5 linked regions of the Homo sapiens genome follow. The protein of the gene in region 4 interacts with the protein of the main gene of each other region in a biochemical or structural test. Each region holds a gene or a part of one and is shown on either strand. Other genes may lie near its edges.

What was found.
Region 1: the proteins of USP11 (region 4) and RANBP9 form a complex in vitro, tested with the Homo sapiens proteins (one study listed by BioGRID).
Region 2: the proteins of USP11 (region 4) and LLGL1 form a complex in vitro, tested with the Homo sapiens proteins (one study listed by BioGRID).
Region 3: of the proteins of USP11 (region 4) and RPS6KB1, one has a biochemical effect on the other in vitro, tested with the Homo sapiens proteins (one study listed by BioGRID).
Region 5: of the proteins of USP11 (region 4) and EIF4B, one has a biochemical effect on the other in vitro, tested with the Homo sapiens proteins (one study listed by BioGRID).

Annotation. Positions count from the first base shown.
Region 1 is NC_000006.12:13,642,334-13,645,853, reverse strand, and holds part of RANBP9 (ran-binding protein 9), read left to right. Parts: intron 1-1,124; coding exon 1,125-1,309; intron 1,310-3,262; coding exon 3,263-3,375; intron 3,376-3,520. UniProt on the Homo sapiens protein: May act as scaffolding protein, and as adapter protein to couple membrane receptors to intracellular signaling pathways. Acts as a mediator of cell spreading and actin cytoskeleton rearrangement.
Region 2 is NC_000017.11:18,228,621-18,232,140, forward strand, and holds part of LLGL1 (lethal(2) giant larvae protein homolog 1), read left to right. Parts: intron 1-1,320; coding exon 1,321-1,418; intron 1,419-3,520. UniProt on the Homo sapiens protein: Cortical cytoskeleton protein found in a complex involved in maintaining cell polarity and epithelial integrity. Involved in the regulation of mitotic spindle orientation, proliferation, differentiation and tissue organization of neuroepithelial cells.
Region 3 is NC_000017.11:59,896,117-59,899,636, forward strand, and holds part of RPS6KB1 (ribosomal protein S6 kinase beta-1), read left to right. Parts: intron 1-3,520. UniProt on the Homo sapiens protein: Serine/threonine-protein kinase that acts downstream of mTOR signaling in response to growth factors and nutrients to promote cell proliferation, cell growth and cell cycle progression.
Region 4 is NC_000023.11:47,243,004-47,245,933, forward strand, and holds part of USP11 (ubiquitin carboxyl-terminal hydrolase 11), read left to right. Parts: intron 1-392; coding exon 393-599; intron 600-1,494; coding exon 1,495-1,547; intron 1,548-1,678; coding exon 1,679-1,921; intron 1,922-2,012; coding exon 2,013-2,083; intron 2,084-2,366; coding exon 2,367-2,479; intron 2,480-2,930.
Region 5 is NC_000012.12:53,016,441-53,019,960, forward strand, and holds part of EIF4B (eukaryotic translation initiation factor 4B), read left to right. Parts: intron 1-32; coding exon 33-170; intron 171-2,357; coding exon 2,358-2,566; intron 2,567-3,469; coding exon 3,470-3,520. UniProt on the Homo sapiens protein: Required for the binding of mRNA to ribosomes. Functions in close association with EIF4-F and EIF4-A. Binds near the 5'-terminal cap of mRNA in presence of EIF-4F and ATP.

The sequences.
Region 1 (3,520 bases), on a different chromosome or scaffold from region 4:
TCTATTTAACATATTCACACAGAAATTATCCGCTCTTGATCTTTACCTTGTTTTGTACTGAAAAATACTTGTTATAACTATTAAAGATATAAGACATAAATACAGAAAATGAAAATATGGTAGGATTTGGAGTTGCAAGAGGAAAAATCAGTTTTGGATGTGGTATCAGACAAACTTGTGTTCCAATTCCATCTCTGCCATTTGTTAGCAGAACGACCATGAGCAAGTTATTTAACCTTGAATCCTCATTTTCTCTGTCTTTGAAGTAGAAATAATAATAGTGGCCTCACAGAATTATGATTAAACCCTGGCATTTAGTAGCCACTCAGAAACTCATTCTGCCTTTAGATGTAACAACCAATTAGTGACATAGCCAAAAGAATGACCCCTGTATTTTTTGTTTACTTGAAGTTATCACCTTTTCATCTTGATTAACCTTGAAACCATGGAGTGTACCTGAATGCATTTCTGAGTTTGGGTATATTCAGATTCATCCTTTTCCTCCCTTGAAATACATATATTTGAGGTTTTGTGTTTTTTTTTTAATATAGAGAATCTCCACTCTTCCTGGCACTGTGTTTTGCTTATAGTTATGGTCTTATCCCCTTCCCTTTGTAAAGTTAGGCATCCCAAATATACAGAATGAAAACAGTAAATTTAAGCTATTAAATGCCAGACTAGCTGAGATCATACTTTTATGATAACTAGCTTTAACATGCAGTTTATAGAAATGTATCATATATAAAATGTGGGATAAACCTGAGTTATGTGTTTATAGTTGAATTTCTGTAACTACTATATGACATAATCTTAGAACAAGAATTACATGCACATATATTAGTAGCATAATACCACGTGGTATAATACAACGTAGTCCCTGAATAAATAAAACAGAGATCTTGGGTCTCTTTGTTTTTTCTTGATGATTACATTGCAGGAAGTGATATTTTTTCATCTAACATATAATGTATTTTAGATCATTTGTTTTAGCCTTCTAATATTTTGATTGGGATTTTAAAATATGAAGTAAATTTATAGTTCTATTCTTTTAAATGTAACATTAAAAGAATTATTAAATCTAACATAAAATGGATAGATGTTTAATGAAATATGCTATCTTACAGCCAAATTTGTATCCTACTGTGGGGCTTCAAACACCAGGAGAAGTGGTCGATGCCAATTTTGGGCAACATCCTTTCGTGTTTGATATAGAAGACTATATGCGGGAGTGGAGAACCAAAATCCAGGCACAGATAGATCGATTTCCTATCGGAGATCGAGAAGGAGAATGGCAGACCATGATACAAAAGTAAGAGTGAAGAAATTTCAATTGATGCTATTCAGAATCTGTTTTTTATAAGACATTTATTCTGTTGGTATCCACAGAAGCTTTTTAATCCACTAATTTATATACTGACATATCTATTATATTATTGATTTTAATCTCTCAACGAAAAGTAATTTACTCCACTATTTAAACAAATTAAAAACAATTGTTTGACACACGTACAGAATTGTATTTCAGTCTGAATTAATTTGATGAAGGAAATAAAATGATGTTAGGTCACCTAGGCTAGGTTAATTCATTTGCTATTCTTAGTAATAGGATTTAATGATTTCTGTAGGTTATACAATTTAACTTTTAATAATGTTAATGGAAAAGATAAAGTTGAGAGATAATCTAGATCTTATAATCAGGATCTGTGGTTTTTGGTCATGAACTTGGCTATGTCCAAGCTCTTAATATCTGAACTATCAGCAGTAGTTAAGTATGGACTTAAAATTTAAATAAATACCATTAAATTTAAAAAGTCCTCTTCACTATTATAATCCAGGTCAAGAAAATAGCAGACTTTCAGATACAGTTGGTCCAACACATTTCATCTTTAATGTCCTTATAATTGCTTTGAATATTCTTAACTTTAAAATTGTAATAAAATGTTGGGGGTATTTTTTAGAAAAGGAAGTGATTGGGAGACATGATGATGACTCTGAAATCACACTTCGTCCCTGGAGCTATTATCATCTGTATTACAGAGATTGGACACTAGTTTTTTTGTCCAGCCCAGTTGAGAATAGACAACCCTGATGCAGAATCCTATAGTCACCACGAAGTGAAGCTAGAATGGGTTGTTCTGGGGCCACACTGTTTTAATGCTCTGAAAATGGTTACCACTGAGTATCATGGCAAGATAGTAGAAAACATTTATCTTAACCTTATAACCAGGATCCTTCCACCCACTTCTTCACTGACTTGATGTTCACCATGAACTCTTGAGAAGTCCATTCTAAAAGGTCCCCTCCCCCTTAAATTAATTTGAACAATTGGGTAAAATAAGATGCAGATCTGTTTCTTAGACATTTTCCTCCCTTTTCTCCCTCCGCTCTTTGCCTCAGTCTCCTCCTGTGGTGAACCACTGCTTCCCACGATTTTCTAACTGGCCCTTAGTAGTGTCAGGTGGAGGCAAGTTTAAAAATTGACTGTTTGGAGATAACAGATATTTGGGTTAATATTGTTGCATCACCAGTTTTTCTAACCACATCTTGTGGGTAGATGTAAGTATATGTTTTGACTACCTGGTACGTTTTTAAAAGATTATTGTCTTGGAAATGTGTCACTTACATGTAAACCATATTTGATAAATCTCTTGGGTAAAACCATAGTAATTGATTTAGATTAGAAGGCTGATTCCTCCTTTAATTAGTAGTACACTTATAGACATGTTCTGGAAGATTGTCTCTCTGGATTCACCTTAGTATTCTGTACATACTTTGTGATCCCACTTCATTTAACCGGTGTGTAAAGAAGATGGTTGAACTCTGGAACATTAAGAGTTAATCTTTTATTTTAAAGTTGGTTATTTTACAGAATGCCAGCAATACTGGAATAAGTCATATGATAAAGTCAAAATAGAAATTATGGTTAGTAGGGCTGAATAATAAGATAGGAAGGGACCTGGGGGTAATGAGAGTCCAAGAATCAAAGAAAAGGTCATTTAATGTCCTTGATTCTCAAGTAATATTTATTTTAGGGAGAGTAGTCTCAACATAGCATTTGCAGTTATCTTTTCGAAAATAGTACATGAATAGAACAAAATGATGTTTTTCAAAAGCTTACTTTAAAGGTGAGGTTCTTAACGCCTTGTTTCAAGGAAATAGGTTCGTTTTTATAACACCAGAATAGATTTTGTTTATATAAATTGTAGTATGAAGCATGTATTCTCTTCACTAAAAGATGTATGTTTCTTCTTTTTATTTTAAGAATGGTTTCATCTTATTTAGTCCACCATGGGTACTGTGCCACAGCAGAGGCCTTTGCCAGATCTACAGACCAGACCGTTCTAGAAGAATTAGCTTCCATTAAGAATAGACAAAGTAAGGACACTGTGGTGCATGGCTAACATTTGTTTTCAGATTATAGATTTGGTTACTTTAATTTTTAGAAATTTTGTTTTTTTAATTAAAAAAATTTCAAATATATTAATTTAAAATGGATGCCTCTGAATTTTATTTTCACTGA
Region 2 (3,520 bases), on a different chromosome or scaffold from region 4:
CCTCCTTTCCTCGTTTGTAAAATGGGAAGGCTGTGGGGATTTGCGATGCAGTGTCCCGTCTCTGGACCCTGGTTGTAGCGAGGGACTGGCTAGACAAGGTCAGGTGCAGCAAGGGCGTGGTATTATTGGTGGGAGAGAGAAGCCCCAGCCAAATCGCCAACTCTGTCCTTAGGTGGGCTTACTGTCCCAAGGGCCCAGATGAGAGACTGAAGCTTGGAGAGTACTGAGTCTTGGAGAGTACTGTGACTTGCCCAAGGCCAGACAGCTAGGCCGTGACCAAACCAGCTGCCCAGAGGGCTCAGTCCCCACCTGGATGGGCAGAGGCAGGCAGGGAGGGAGGTTCGCGTTACAGGCTGGGAACTGGGGTTTCTTACAAATGTGCATCTTCCTGAGGCAGTGGGTCAGGAATTACCAGTGGTAAAAGTGAAAAATAAATAACAACAACAAGATAAAAGGAGTTACCAGTGGCCCACGTGGGTGTCCTGCACTGGTGTTCAGGATGGGGCTGGAGCTCAGCTGTGCAGGCTTCCCAGGGAGGGCACAGCCAGGCCAAAGACAGGAGACTGGTGCAGAAAGGGTGTGCTGTGAAAGGGGCAGGGGAGCGGGTGGGGAGCTGTTTCATCGACACTCTGGGCACACAGACCCCCTTAACACCATCTCCGCCCCTGATGGTTATGGGAGTCATGTTGCCCAGCTGTTGGCAGGTGGGGAGGTGGGAGGATGCCTTCGGGGTCCAGGCAGAAAGCTACCCCTCTCTGGGCCTCTGTCTCCCTGTGTCTGGGAGGAGTCAAAAGCCTCTGCCTAGCTGATCCTGGATGTTGTCCCTTGACCTCTGACCTCCACTCAGGCCTGTGTTTGGGGAGTGTCATGGTCATCTTGCGGGACTCCTCCGCAAGCTTTAGTCTGTGCCTCTAAAAATGGGGTGCAGAGCCCTTCATGGAGCAGGTGGGGCCTCATCAGTGCCTGCACCTCTGTGAGCCTTGCTTCACCTGTTTGTTGCTGGAGCCTCCATGCAGTGGGGCCCACATGAGCCTGTGTGCATTGAGGGGCACAGGGGCTTGGCAAAGGGCGGGCCTCTGTGGACTATGCACGCGGTACAGTCATGGTGGAGGCTAGGGGTTTAGCCACCTCCCCACCAACTGGAGGCATGATAACCCATTTCACAGTTGAGGACGCTGAGGCACAGAGCAAGTAGACCTGCCTCCTACCCCCAGTGTGTCAGCTGCAGACCCTGGAGGCTGCCTTGGGGTGGGCCTCAGGGTGGGCCATGGCAGAGGTGCCTGGGAGTGCTTACCCCCAGCAGCCCTCCCCTCCTTGCAGACTGTGGAGCATGGCTTCCCCAATCAGCCCAGCGCCCTGGCCTTCGACCCGGAACTTCGCATCATGGCCATCGGCACCAGGTCTGGGGCTGTCAAGATGTATCCTTTGCAGGACAGGTGTTCAGGGTCTGTTCAGGACCACCTGCCTGTAGTTCCCTGTGCTCTGGGGTCCCAGTCTTGGCAGTGTCCAGCTCGAGAGGAGGACAGAGGTGCTCTGATGGGCAGTAGTGGGGGCTTCTGCGGAGGTTGGCGTGGCTTCTGTACCTGAGACAACTGTGCAGAGATGATGGGGTCCTTTTGCTGAGAGACGGGTGGTGGGGGGTCAGTTTGCAGTAGCACAGCTGTCCCTTGCTACGTGTCAGCCAGCCAGTTACCTAGGCGACCCTGCCATCGTCCCAGCAACTCTGGGGAGGCCAGGCAGAAGGCTGGGCTATGATACCCATGGAGGGTGGCAGGTGGGCTGGGGGCCCTGGTGAGCTGATGCACACATGTGTGAATGTGAAGACACATGTGTTCAGCAAAGGGGCCTGGGGGCAGTGCCAGGCTCGGCATGGTGAGCACAGCACGGCCCCCACCTGGATACTGGCTGCTGCACAATGGGCTGTGTGAGCCACACAAAGCGGGCATTTTCCCTGCAGGCCTGGGGTGGGGGTGGGGGCAGGCCGGCAGCTCAGTGTCTCCTTGCCAGCCCTGGAGAATCCCACCCCAACTGCTCTTGGGGAAGCCGAGGTGCCAGGGTCTGGCTGATGGCGGCTTGGTGAGGGGTGCTGACCCCTACCCCTCCTGTGTGGCCTTCTGGGTTTCAGTATCCTGGTTTCAGACATCAGTTCCCAGAAAATGTGTCAGTGCTGGGAAAGGGGAGGGTGTGGGATGGGGGTCTCCTCACCCCAGGACTGGGGGCACTGATCAGGCAGGGATGGGACTCTGAGCCTGTGGTTTGTGAGCTCTTTGCCTACTCTGGGGAGTGTGGATGGGCTGAGATGTCCCCTTCTCTCCCATGGCCCCAGCGGCCTCTGTTGGTGAGTGTGGCAGTGCTCTGGGCCCCACATGCTCCGCTGCCTGGCCTGCTGCTCCCACTCCTGTGGGTGCTGCGCTGCGTGCGCACATGTGTCCCTGCAGCCTTCAGGTGTCCCTCCTGTGTTGGGGTCTCCAGTGCACTTGTCCTCAGGCTCAAAAAGAACCTGAAGTGCAGATGAGGAGACTGAGCCTCAGAAAGGAGGCTGGAGCCCGGGGTCCTCTTCCCTTTTTCCCCTGACTGCCACTGCCTGGAGCCCCTTGGGTTGGGAAACTGAGGCTGGAGAGGGCCAGCCCTGGTCACTAGAAGCTGCCCCTCCCCCTGCCAGGCCAGCCCCATCTCCTTGACGACCCTGGTTCCCGCCCAGCTGCTCCTGTCCCCTCTTTTGTCCCTTCTTCGGAGTTTCTCGCCAGGCTCCTGTAGGGAATCTGAGCTCAAGCTCCAGGCAACGGCTCCTGTGTTGTCACCGGGGCAACGTTGCTGACTCCTCCCTGCACCCTCTGTCATGGGGCCCCCTCAGGCCCTGCTGTCCACCATCAGCCCTGGAGTTGCCGGGACTCAGGCACTGACACTGGGCACTTCAAGCAGGTCATCCACCCCCTCCAAGTCTGTGTGCTCATCTGTGAAATGGGCAGGCTGGAGTCTCTCCTCCCTCATGATGGCAGTTGTTGGCTGCCTGCTTTGGAGGGAGGTGGGTTTTTTTTGTTTTGTTTTGTTTTTTTGAGATGGAGTCTTGCTCTTTGTTGCCCAGGCTGGAGTGCAGTCGCACAGTTTTGGCTCACTGCAACCTTTGCCTCCCGGGTTCAAGCAGTTCTCTGCCTCAGCCTCCCAAATAGCTGGGATTACAGGTGCCTGCCAGCATGCCCGGCTAATTTTTGCGTTTTTAGTAGAGACGAGGTTTCACCATCTTGGCCAGGCTGGTCCTCAACTCCTGACCTTGTGATCTACCTGCCTCGGCCTCCCAAAGTGCTGGGATTACAGGAGCGAGCCACCGTGCCCAGAGGAGGTGGGTTTTCTTACCCATGGCTGAAGTTTGGCCTGAAGCTGTGGGAAAAGGCAGCCTGGACTCTTCTGCCCCCTGGCTTTCTTGTCCAGGCCTGGCCTTGCACCTCTGGCCTGCCTGATCCCATCCGGCAAGGCGCAGCTCCCAGAACCCATAGACACACGGAGCTGAAGTGGAGCGGAG
Region 3 (3,520 bases), on a different chromosome or scaffold from region 4:
GAAAACTGGATAGGAAGGTGCTTTATATCTTCATTAGTTGAACTGATAGAATTTCCAGACTGGGTTTATTTTATTTTATTTTTTTTTCTTTTCTGAGACAGAGTCTTGCTCTATTTGCCCAGGCTGGAGTGCAATGGCGCTATCTCGGCTCACTGCAGCCTCCACTTCCCGGGTTCAAGCGATTCTCCTGCCTCAGCCTCCCGAGTAGCTGGGATTACAGGCACCCGCCACCAGGCCCGGCTAATTTTTGTATTTTTAGTAGAGACGGGGTTTCTCCATGTTGGTCAGGCTGGTCCGGAACTTCCAAACTTGGGTGATCTGCCTGCCTTGGCCTCTCAAAATACAGGTGTGAGCCACCGCACCCAGCCAGGTTTATTCTTTTTTGAAAGTACAGTACTCTGTTAAAATTCCTGTGTAAACTGGGACTTTTCTTTTCACTTTCTTGTGTTTCAAGAACAGTAGGTGTTCCAGGGCTTTTGTCCTGCTGGGTACAAGCAAGTAGGATTTTGAGAAGGTGTGAGGAGGAGGTCAGAAAAATTGGTGGAAATAGGAAAGAGAAAGAAATATGGCCCCGATTTTGGGGAGAGAAAGTCTGGGGAAAGAGCAAAGGCAATTAAAGAGGATTTTGAGGAAGAGACTTCTGTAAAATATGTCTTAGCAACACTTTTTGGAGTTGAAAATATTTCTTTTTAGTGTGTTATTTTTTCTAAGAGGTGCCTCAAGATGGATAATGGAAGATTTGGAGTACGATTGGGTTGACAATCCAAGGAGATTCGGTGACATCCAGATTACCCTGAAATAAAAAAAAAAAAAAATTCTGGAAAATGAGAGAAGTTTAGATTCTTAGAAAATCTTCTGATAGTTTCTATTTGTGAATTTATAGACTTTAATTTATTACACAAAGTTTTTAAACATTGGTGCATATCAGTTTTCCTCATTTTATAGTAAGGAAACTGAGGCATAGGCCATATGATAGCCAAAGATCACATAGTGGTAGTGTCTTCTGACTTAATTCAGCAGGCTTCATTGCACAGGTTCTTCATTGCATTTACTAGTTGTGTTTATAATGTTCCTCTTTGTGGTATGTCAAAAGTGAATTCAGATTCCTTTGGCCATACTCACTCTGTGACCTGGAGTAAATTCCTTAATCTCTAATGTTTTCTATAACATGAGGGTTACATTAAATAAGTACGTAAAGTACAGTACTCTCAAAATATCCTGGCGTATTAAGCAATTAGCTAGTTCACAGAAATTCAGCTTGTCTTGTCATTGCTAAGGAACCAATCATTCAGGTTTAACCTCGTATACCTAGAGACTTAATAATTGCAGTTAAACTCGAGGTGCTGTATTTTTACAACTGTAGTATCATAGTGTGTATTTTTTTTTAAAACTAATTGATCCCGTTTAGAGAGATGTGCCTTTCAAGGTACGTTACAGAGTGACTATGCGTTAGTAAATATAGGTATTTCCATAGTTTATTTAATTAGAGATTAAAAGATGAGACTAAATGATACATTTATGGACAAAGTTGAATATCTGCCACCTAACTTAAAAAAGATCCTGTTTAAGGCCGGGCACAGTGGCTCATGCCTGTAATCCCAGCACTTTGGGAGGCCGAGGCAGGTGGATCACGATGTCAGGAGCAGGAGACCAGCCTGGCCAATATGGTGAAACCCAGTTTCTACTAAAAATACAAAAATTAGCCAGGCATGGTGGTGCACACCTCTAGTCCCAGCTATTCAGGAGGCTGAGGCAGGAGAATCTCTTGAACCTGGGAGGTGGAGGTTGCAGTGAGCCAAGATCATACCACTGCACTCCAGCCTGGGCGACACAGTGAGATTCCGTCTCAAAAAAAAAAAAAAAAGATTCTGTTTAAATATCTCAGAGGAATATAATCAAAGCCTATTGGTAAGAGGGGAGTTTTTGGGCGGAGGGTGTCTTTTTTGTTTGTTTTTTTGTTTCACTGTTGATGATATCATTTGGGGCAGTAAATTGAAACTAAGGAAAAGTTTTCCTTCAGAGAATTTAGATTGCAAAAATGTTGGAATCTTCTCTGCTCTCTATAGCATTAAGAGTAGTAGAAAACTGTAATGCAATTTAAAAAATTCTCACTTTGTACTCTAATTCAAAATTTGAAATAATCACGCAGGCTTACTGTACAAGTTTCAGATTGGGACATCAGATTTTTATTGAGTAAAAGGTTTAAAATTTTTGAAAACCAAAGTGCTATATAGATAGTATATACTCAAATATTCATGATTATGAAAAATTATAGAAAAAATATCAATACTTATCTTGCTTTGTAATATATACTTACTATAAAGCAGCAACTTTTTTTTATTTTTTATTTTTTTGAGACGGAGTTTTGCTCTTGTGGCCCAGGCTGGAGTGCAGTGGTGCGATCTCGGCTCACTGCAACCTCTGCCTCCTGGGTTCAAGCTATTCTCCTGCCTCAGCCTCCCGAGTAGCTGGGATTACAGGTGCCGACTACCACACCCAGCTAATTTTTTGTATTTTTTTGGTAGAGACGGGGTTTCACCATGTTGGCCAGGCTGGTCTCAAACTCTTGACTTCAGGCGATACACCTGCCTCGGCCTCCCAAAGTGCTGGGATTACAGGCATGAGCCACCGTGCCCGGCCAGCAGCAACTATTTTTAAATAGCCCAAGAGTTTAGGCAAAGTTCTACCCTTTCTTCCATTTCCTCTAAGTTACTGAATCTTGTCAATCCTAATGAACACAGCAGACATTGGATAGGCCATAAAGCTTAAGGCAGCAGAAAAAAATTAGGAGTAAAGAGTTTCCTGGCCAGGCGGGGTGGCTCATGCCTGTAATCCCAGCACTTTGGGAGGCCAAGGTGGGCAGATCACCTGAGGTCAGGGGTTCGAGACCAGCCTGGCCAACATGGTGAAAACCCCGTCTCTATTAAAAATACAAAAATTAGCCGGGCCTGGTGTCAGGCACCTGTAATCCCAGCTACTCGGGAGGCTGAGGCAGGAGAATCACTTGAACCTGGGAGGCAGAGGTTGCAGTGAGCCAAGATCGCGCCATTGTTCTCCAGCCTGGGGGACAAGAGCAAGACTTCGTCTCAGAAAAAAAAAAAAAAGGAGTAAAGAGTTTCCTGTGAAAGAGAGTTGTCAGTATGTATTACATAATGTTATTTGACACTTCTTGTGTGAGCCTTCTAGAGGTAACACTGAGTAGCAGGAAAGATTTGTGCCTCAAATGCTTCTGTCCTAGACAGTAACGGTAGAAGTTATTAGCACAATATGCAGGTGCCAGCATTATAGGTCTGGCCAGCTTAGGAAATGAAACATAGCTACAGGGCGTATCTTGTGAGGTGGCTTCAAAATCATGGTCCAGTCTTAACTACTCTGTAGTCTTTAATTTAGAATTAAGTAAAACTAACATTAAAGAAAAAACAATTATGTAATACCAGTTTTATCACATCTGGAAGAAGTTAGTCTTTTGTCATAAAAGTGAAGCCATCCTAGGCGATTACGTAGAGCAACAAAGACAAAA
Region 4 (2,930 bases):
CTGTAATCCCAGCACTTTGGGAGGCTGAAGCAGGCAGATCACGAGGTCAGGAGATGGAGACCATCCTGGCTAACACGGTGAAACCCCGTCTCTACTAAAAATACAAAAAATTAGCCGGGCGTGGTGGCAGGTGCCTGTAGTCCCAGCTACTCGGGAGGCTGAGGCAGGAGAATGGCATGAACCCGGGAGGCGGAGCTTGCAGTGAGCCGAGATCGTGCCACTGCACTGCAGCCTGGGCAACAGAGCGAGACTCCGTCTCAAAAATAAATAAATAAATAAATAAAAATAAAAATGCCTTCAGGCTGTGAGGATGAGTGGGTGGGGCAGCCAGGGCAGAGTCAGGGAGTCTCTGGGGGCCCTGATCAGGTGTGCCTGCTGTCCACCCCCCACAGCTATGAGGTGTCAGGTCGCATTGAGGCCATTGAGGGCTCAAGAGAGGACATCGTGGTTCCTGTCTACCTGCGGGAGCGCACCCCTGCCCGTGACTACAACAACTCCTACTACGGCCTGATGCTTTTTGGACACCCCCTCCTGGTATCAGTGCCCCGGGACCGCTTCACCTGGGAGGGCCTGTATAACGTCCTGATGTACCGGCTCTCGTAAGTGTCCTCTTCCCCGGGGGTGGGGGGCGGAGGGGTCTGAACTCCGACTTGGGTGTTTAGCTGCTTATTTGACACCTCCCCTGTAACAAACAAAAGACAGTCCAAACTTAACATGGCCATAGAAGAACTTGTAGGGTTTTTTCTTTCTCTAGACCTCTGGCTTTGCTACTGCCTGTCTTGGGTGCTAGGGATACAGAGGTGAACAAGATGCACAAAACAGACAACTTCATCTTGTCTTCAGTTGTCTCTCCTGGAGACTGTTGTCCCTCCTGGGAGAGTCTTGGTTTTTTTGTCTTTTTGCTGACAAATTTTCATTTTGCCTAAAATCTAGAGTCTTTACTGTGGCACACAAAGCATTGTGTTATCAGAATTCTCCCCCCTCATTTTGCATTCAAAAGTCATTCCCCAGAGGCTTTCCCTGATGGGAAGTTACAGCCGGTATGTGTCTTGTCTAGCAGTGGCTTATTAGAGTAAAAGTCCACGCTCCATACCTTTTTTTTTTTTTTTTTTTGAGATGGAGTCTTGCTCTGTTGCCCAGGCTGGAGTGTAGTGACATGATCTTGGCTCACTGCAACCTCCATCTCCCGGATTCAAGCGATTCTCCTGCCTCAGCCTCCCAAATAGCTGCAATTACAGCCGCGCGCCACCACGCCCAGCTAATCACACTCCACACCTCTGACTGGGACACAAGTTCCTTCATTCTCAGGCCACTGCTGACAGCCTTGGCCTCTTCATGCATTTACGCGTCACCCCTTCAGCCCTCTCACACCTCAGATTCAGAACGGTTTACATGTGGATCTACCAATGGCTTCCCATTATCTTAAGTAAAATCCCGGGCTCTATCCCCACTGTCCTTGTACCCGTCTTGGGAGTCTCCTCTGCTCTGTTGCAGACGCTACGTGACCAAACCCAACTCAGATGATGAGGACGATGGGGATGAGAAAGGTGAGGGGGCTAACAGTCAGTGGGCGGGGGCTCTGGGTTAGGTCTGACCCACGTAGGGTTCGTCTAGGTGTGCATTGCAGCTTAGCACTTGAGGCTCACACCTTCCCATCTCTGACATCCTCCTGTCCTAGAAGATGACGAGGAGGATAAAGATGACGTCCCTGGGCCCTCAACTGGGGGCAGCCTCCGAGACCCTGAGCCAGAGCAGGCTGGGCCCAGCTCTGGAGTCACGAACAGGTGCCCGTTCCTCCTGGACAATTGCCTTGGCACATCTCAGTGGCCCCCAAGGCGACGACGCAAGCAGCTGTTCACCCTGCAGACGGTGAACTCCAATGGGACCAGCGACCGCACAACCTCCCCTGAAGAAGTCCATGGTATTTCCTTTGGCTATCAGCGAGGGCTGGGGAGGCTGGAGGGGAGATTTCCTGGCAGCAGGATCCATGACCACCTCTCCCTCACCCCCAGCCCAGCCGTACATTGCTATCGACTGGGAGCCAGAGATGAAGAAGCGTTACTATGACGAGGTAGAGGCTGAGGTAAATGAGATCCCAGGGATGGGGGGTACTTCCAGCTCTTGCCCCTCAACTCTTCGTACATCCTCCCCACAACTCCTCTAGCTGGGAACAGAGCCAAGAGATCCAGGTCAAGCTTGGCCTTGGGGCCTGAACACCTACTGAGAGCTCCAGGGCCTGAGGTTCCTAGCTTCAAAGTCGGTGCTCTGACCCACTCAGTGTGTGTCTCCCCCGCTGGGCCCCCACTCCCCATTTCTCCATCTGTCCTCACAGCCGGCCATCTGGTTGTCTGTTCACCCAATCCTAGGGCTACGTGAAGCATGACTGCGTCGGGTACGTGATGAAGAAGGCTCCCGTGCGGCTGCAGGAGTGCATTGAGCTCTTCACCACTGTGGAGACCCTGGAGAAGGAAAACCCCTGGTGAGGGGCCAGAGCGGGGCCTGTGTGTGGGGGTTTCATTGGATGGAACTACTATATTTAGCTTTTTTTTTTTTTTTTTGAGACAGAGTCTGGCTCTGTCAACCCAGGCTGAAGTGCAGTGGTACAATCTCGGCTCAGTGCAACCTCTGCCTCCCAGGATCAAGCTGTTCTCCTGCCTAAGTCTCCTGAGTAGCTGGGATTATAGGCACCCACTACCATGCCTGGCTAATTTTTATATTTTTAGTAGAAACAGGTTTTGCCACGTTGGCCAGGCTGGTCTCGAACTCCTGACTAAAGATGATCCACCCGCCTTGGCCTTCCAAAGTGCTGGGATTACAGGCGTGAGCCACCACACCTGGCCTATATTTAGCTCTTTAAGTATACCTTCCTCCTCCCTCCTCCACACTCAAACCCTTCTTGCCAACCTGGCCACCAATCTCCTGAGCAGACT
Region 5 (3,520 bases), on a different chromosome or scaffold from region 4:
GTGAATAATCTTTCTCTTGCCTTTTAAAACAGCAAAAAAGAAGAATAAGAAGGGGAAGACTATCTCCCTAACAGACTTTCTGGCTGAGGATGGGGGTACTGGTGGAGGAAGCACCTATGTTTCCAAACCAGTCAGCTGGGCTGATGAAACGGATGACCTGGAAGGAGATGGTAACTTTTCTTTTGTCATCGTGTTTGGAATGTTTATTATTTTCTAGACAAAACCTATTACATAATAATTCACATCGTTTGTAATCTGAAAAGAACTTACTCATTTTTTAGCACCTGAAATCTTACATATTTTATAGAATCTAAGGTTTAATCTGAGGTTTGGGCTGTCAGACTTTGCAGTGAAGACTGAAGTGGTCATTTAAGAGAGCTTTGCTAGTTCTTGTTCTTGCATTAACAGACTTCTTAAGTTACTATTCTTTTGGGCCTCATTTTCTTCATTTTAAAAGTAAGAACTAGATCATCTTTTAAAATTCCTTTTAGGTCTAAAATTCTATGGGGTCCTCATAAAGTGATGTTTCAGGCTGCTCGCGATGGCTTACACCTGTAATCCCAGCACTTTGGGAGGCCGAGGTGGGCAGATCACATGAGATGAGAAGTTCAAGACCAGCCTGGCCAACATGGTGAAAACCCATCTCTACTAAAAATACAAAAATTAGCTGGGCGTGGTGGCATGTGCCTGTAATTTCAGCTACTCGGGAGGCTGGGGCAGGAGAATTGCTTGAACCTGGGAGGCGGAGGGTGCAGTGAGCTGAGATCATGCCACTGCACTCCAGCGTGGGAGACAGAGCGAGACTCCATCTCAAAAAAAAAAAAAAAGTGATGTTTCAGTGTAATCTGTAAGCTATGTTTACTCAGAGCCAAGGAATAATTAGTTCCAGGTGTCATTAGTATAAAATCAGAGTGTCCTTGGGTAAACGAAAATGGTCTGAGGAAAAGGAGTGAGAACAGTAATTATGGTGGGAAAATAAAGAAGAGTCAATTGGACAAGTTCTGTGCCTTCAGGGAGTCGCCAGGAATAATAAGGAGCTATGTTTTATAATGACCGGGTATGACATAAATCTCATTACCATTGTTTTTTTCCTGAAAATCGTTTATTGCATGCTGAAAGAATATTTTTTCCTATGACCTGTTTTCATAATTCCTAAAAACAGGAAATTTTTTTTGAGACAGAGTCTCTATTGCCCAGGCTGGGGTGCAAGTGGCGCACTCTCTGCTCACTGCAACATCTGCTCCCGGGGTTCAAGCGATTCTCCTGCCTCAGCCGCCTGAGTAGTTGGGATTACAGGTGCCCGCCACCGCGCCCAGCAAATTTTGTATTTTTAGTAGAATCAGGGTTTTACCATTTTGGCCAGGCTGGTCTTGAACTCCTGACCTCATGACCCACCTGCCTCAGCCTCCCAAAGTGCTGGGATTACAGGCATGAGCCACTGCACCCGGCCAAAACAGGAAATTTTATATAGGTCGTACTTCCCATAGGTGTTGGTATCTGAAGTACAAATTCATGGACAGTGCTGTAGGAAAAGATTTTTGTTGTGATATTTTTGTTTGTTTGTTTTCAGATGGAGTCTCACTCTGTCGCCCAGGTTGTAGTGCAGTGGCACAATATCTTGGCCCACTGCAACTGCCGCCTCCCGGTTCAATAGATTGTCCTGTCTCAGCCTCCCAAGTAGATGGGATTACTGGCACATGCCACCACACCTGGCTAATTTTTGTATTTTTAGTAGAGACAGGGTTTCACCATAATGGTCAGGCTGGTCTCAAACCTGACCTCAGGTGATCACCCACCTTGGCCTCCCGAAGTGTTGGGATTATAGGTGTGAGCCACCGAGCCAGGCCTGTTGTTGTTTTTAAGGGAGGATAGACCATGCAGAAAAATACTCAACTTCAAACTCACCACTAGGAATACAAGAGTTGTCAGTAGTGGTTAAATATACCTGGAGTAAGAGGGACCCAGGTTTGAATCCTAGCTTTACCGTCTGTGACCTTGGGCAAATTACTGTCTGAAATCTGAGTTTGCTTTTCTGTAGAATGGGGGACAACCTCACAGGACTGTTAAAAAGATAAGATGGGATATAATGAATATAAAGTAGCTGGCACACAGTAATATTCCATAAAGAGTTGTATTTATGGAATAATATTTCTTTGCTTACATAAAGATTAAGGTGTCATAATTAATCTCAGAAGCTTCTCTTCGTAAAGTGCCCTTATTACTGAACCCCCACTTTTTTTGGTCTGGTTTTCTTGTATAGCATGTTTAATATTTGGCAATTAACATGGGTCCTCTTGTTCTATGACAGTAGTGAGAGAAGTTTCTTCTAATTTCTTACATTCATTCCTCTATCCTAGTTTCGACCACTTGGCACAGTAACGATGACGATGTGTATAGGGCGCCTCCAATTGACCGTTCCATCCTTCCCACTGCTCCACGGGCTGCTCGGGAACCCAATATCGACCGGAGCCGTCTTCCCAAATCGCCACCCTACACTGCTTTTCTAGGAAACCTACCCTATGATGTTACAGAAGAGTCAATTAAGGAATTCTTTCGAGGATTAAATGTAAGTGTAAAAGTTGTAATAATTAACTAGATATTGAGGATAATGTCTAAAAAAGACTAATTGTGGAATGGGCAGTTGCTGTTGAAAAAACAACTAGAAATATAATTTAAGGCCGGGAATGGTGGCTCACGCCTGTAATCCCAGCACTCTGGGAGTCTGAGGCGGGTGGATCATTTGAGGTCAGGAATTCGAGTCCAGCCTGGCTAACGTGGTGAGACCCTGTCTCTACTAAGAATACAAAAATTAGCTGGGCGTGGTGGTACACGTCTGTAATCCCAGCTACTTGGGAGGCTGAGGTAGGAGAATTGCTTGAACCTGGAAGACGGAGGTTGTGGTGAGCCGAGATTGCGCCATTGCACTCCAGCCTGGGCAACAAGAGTGAAACACCATCTCAAAGAAAAAAAATAAAATCAAAATTATATATATATATATTTTTTTTTTTTCTTTTTTTTTTTTTTTTTTTTTTTTGAGACAGAGTCTCATTCTGTCATCCAGGCTGGAGTACAGTGGATTACATGCCCAGCTAATTTTTTGTATTTAGTAGAGATAGGGTTGCACTATGTTGGTCAGGCTGGTCTTGAACTCCTGACCTCAGAGGATCCACCTGCTTCGGCCTCCCAAAGTGCTGGGACTACAGGCATGAGCCACTGCACCTGGCCTGAATTAATCTTTTTTTTTTTTTTTTTAGAGTTAAATTCATACAGTTCAAAATTCAGAAGGTATAATAGGGCATTTAGTAAAGTTTCTACTATCCCTCTGCATCAGTTTTCCTCCTGAGACAACCATGTTCTTGTGTATTCAGAAAAATTCATGCACATACAGTAATGCTTTTGTAGTCCTCTCAAAAAATGACAAATGAAGAAGAATGCTGGGAAACTTTGTTGTTGATTCTTATTCCTTCAGATCAGTGCAGTGCGTTTACCACGTGAACCCAGCAATCCAGAGAGGTTGAAA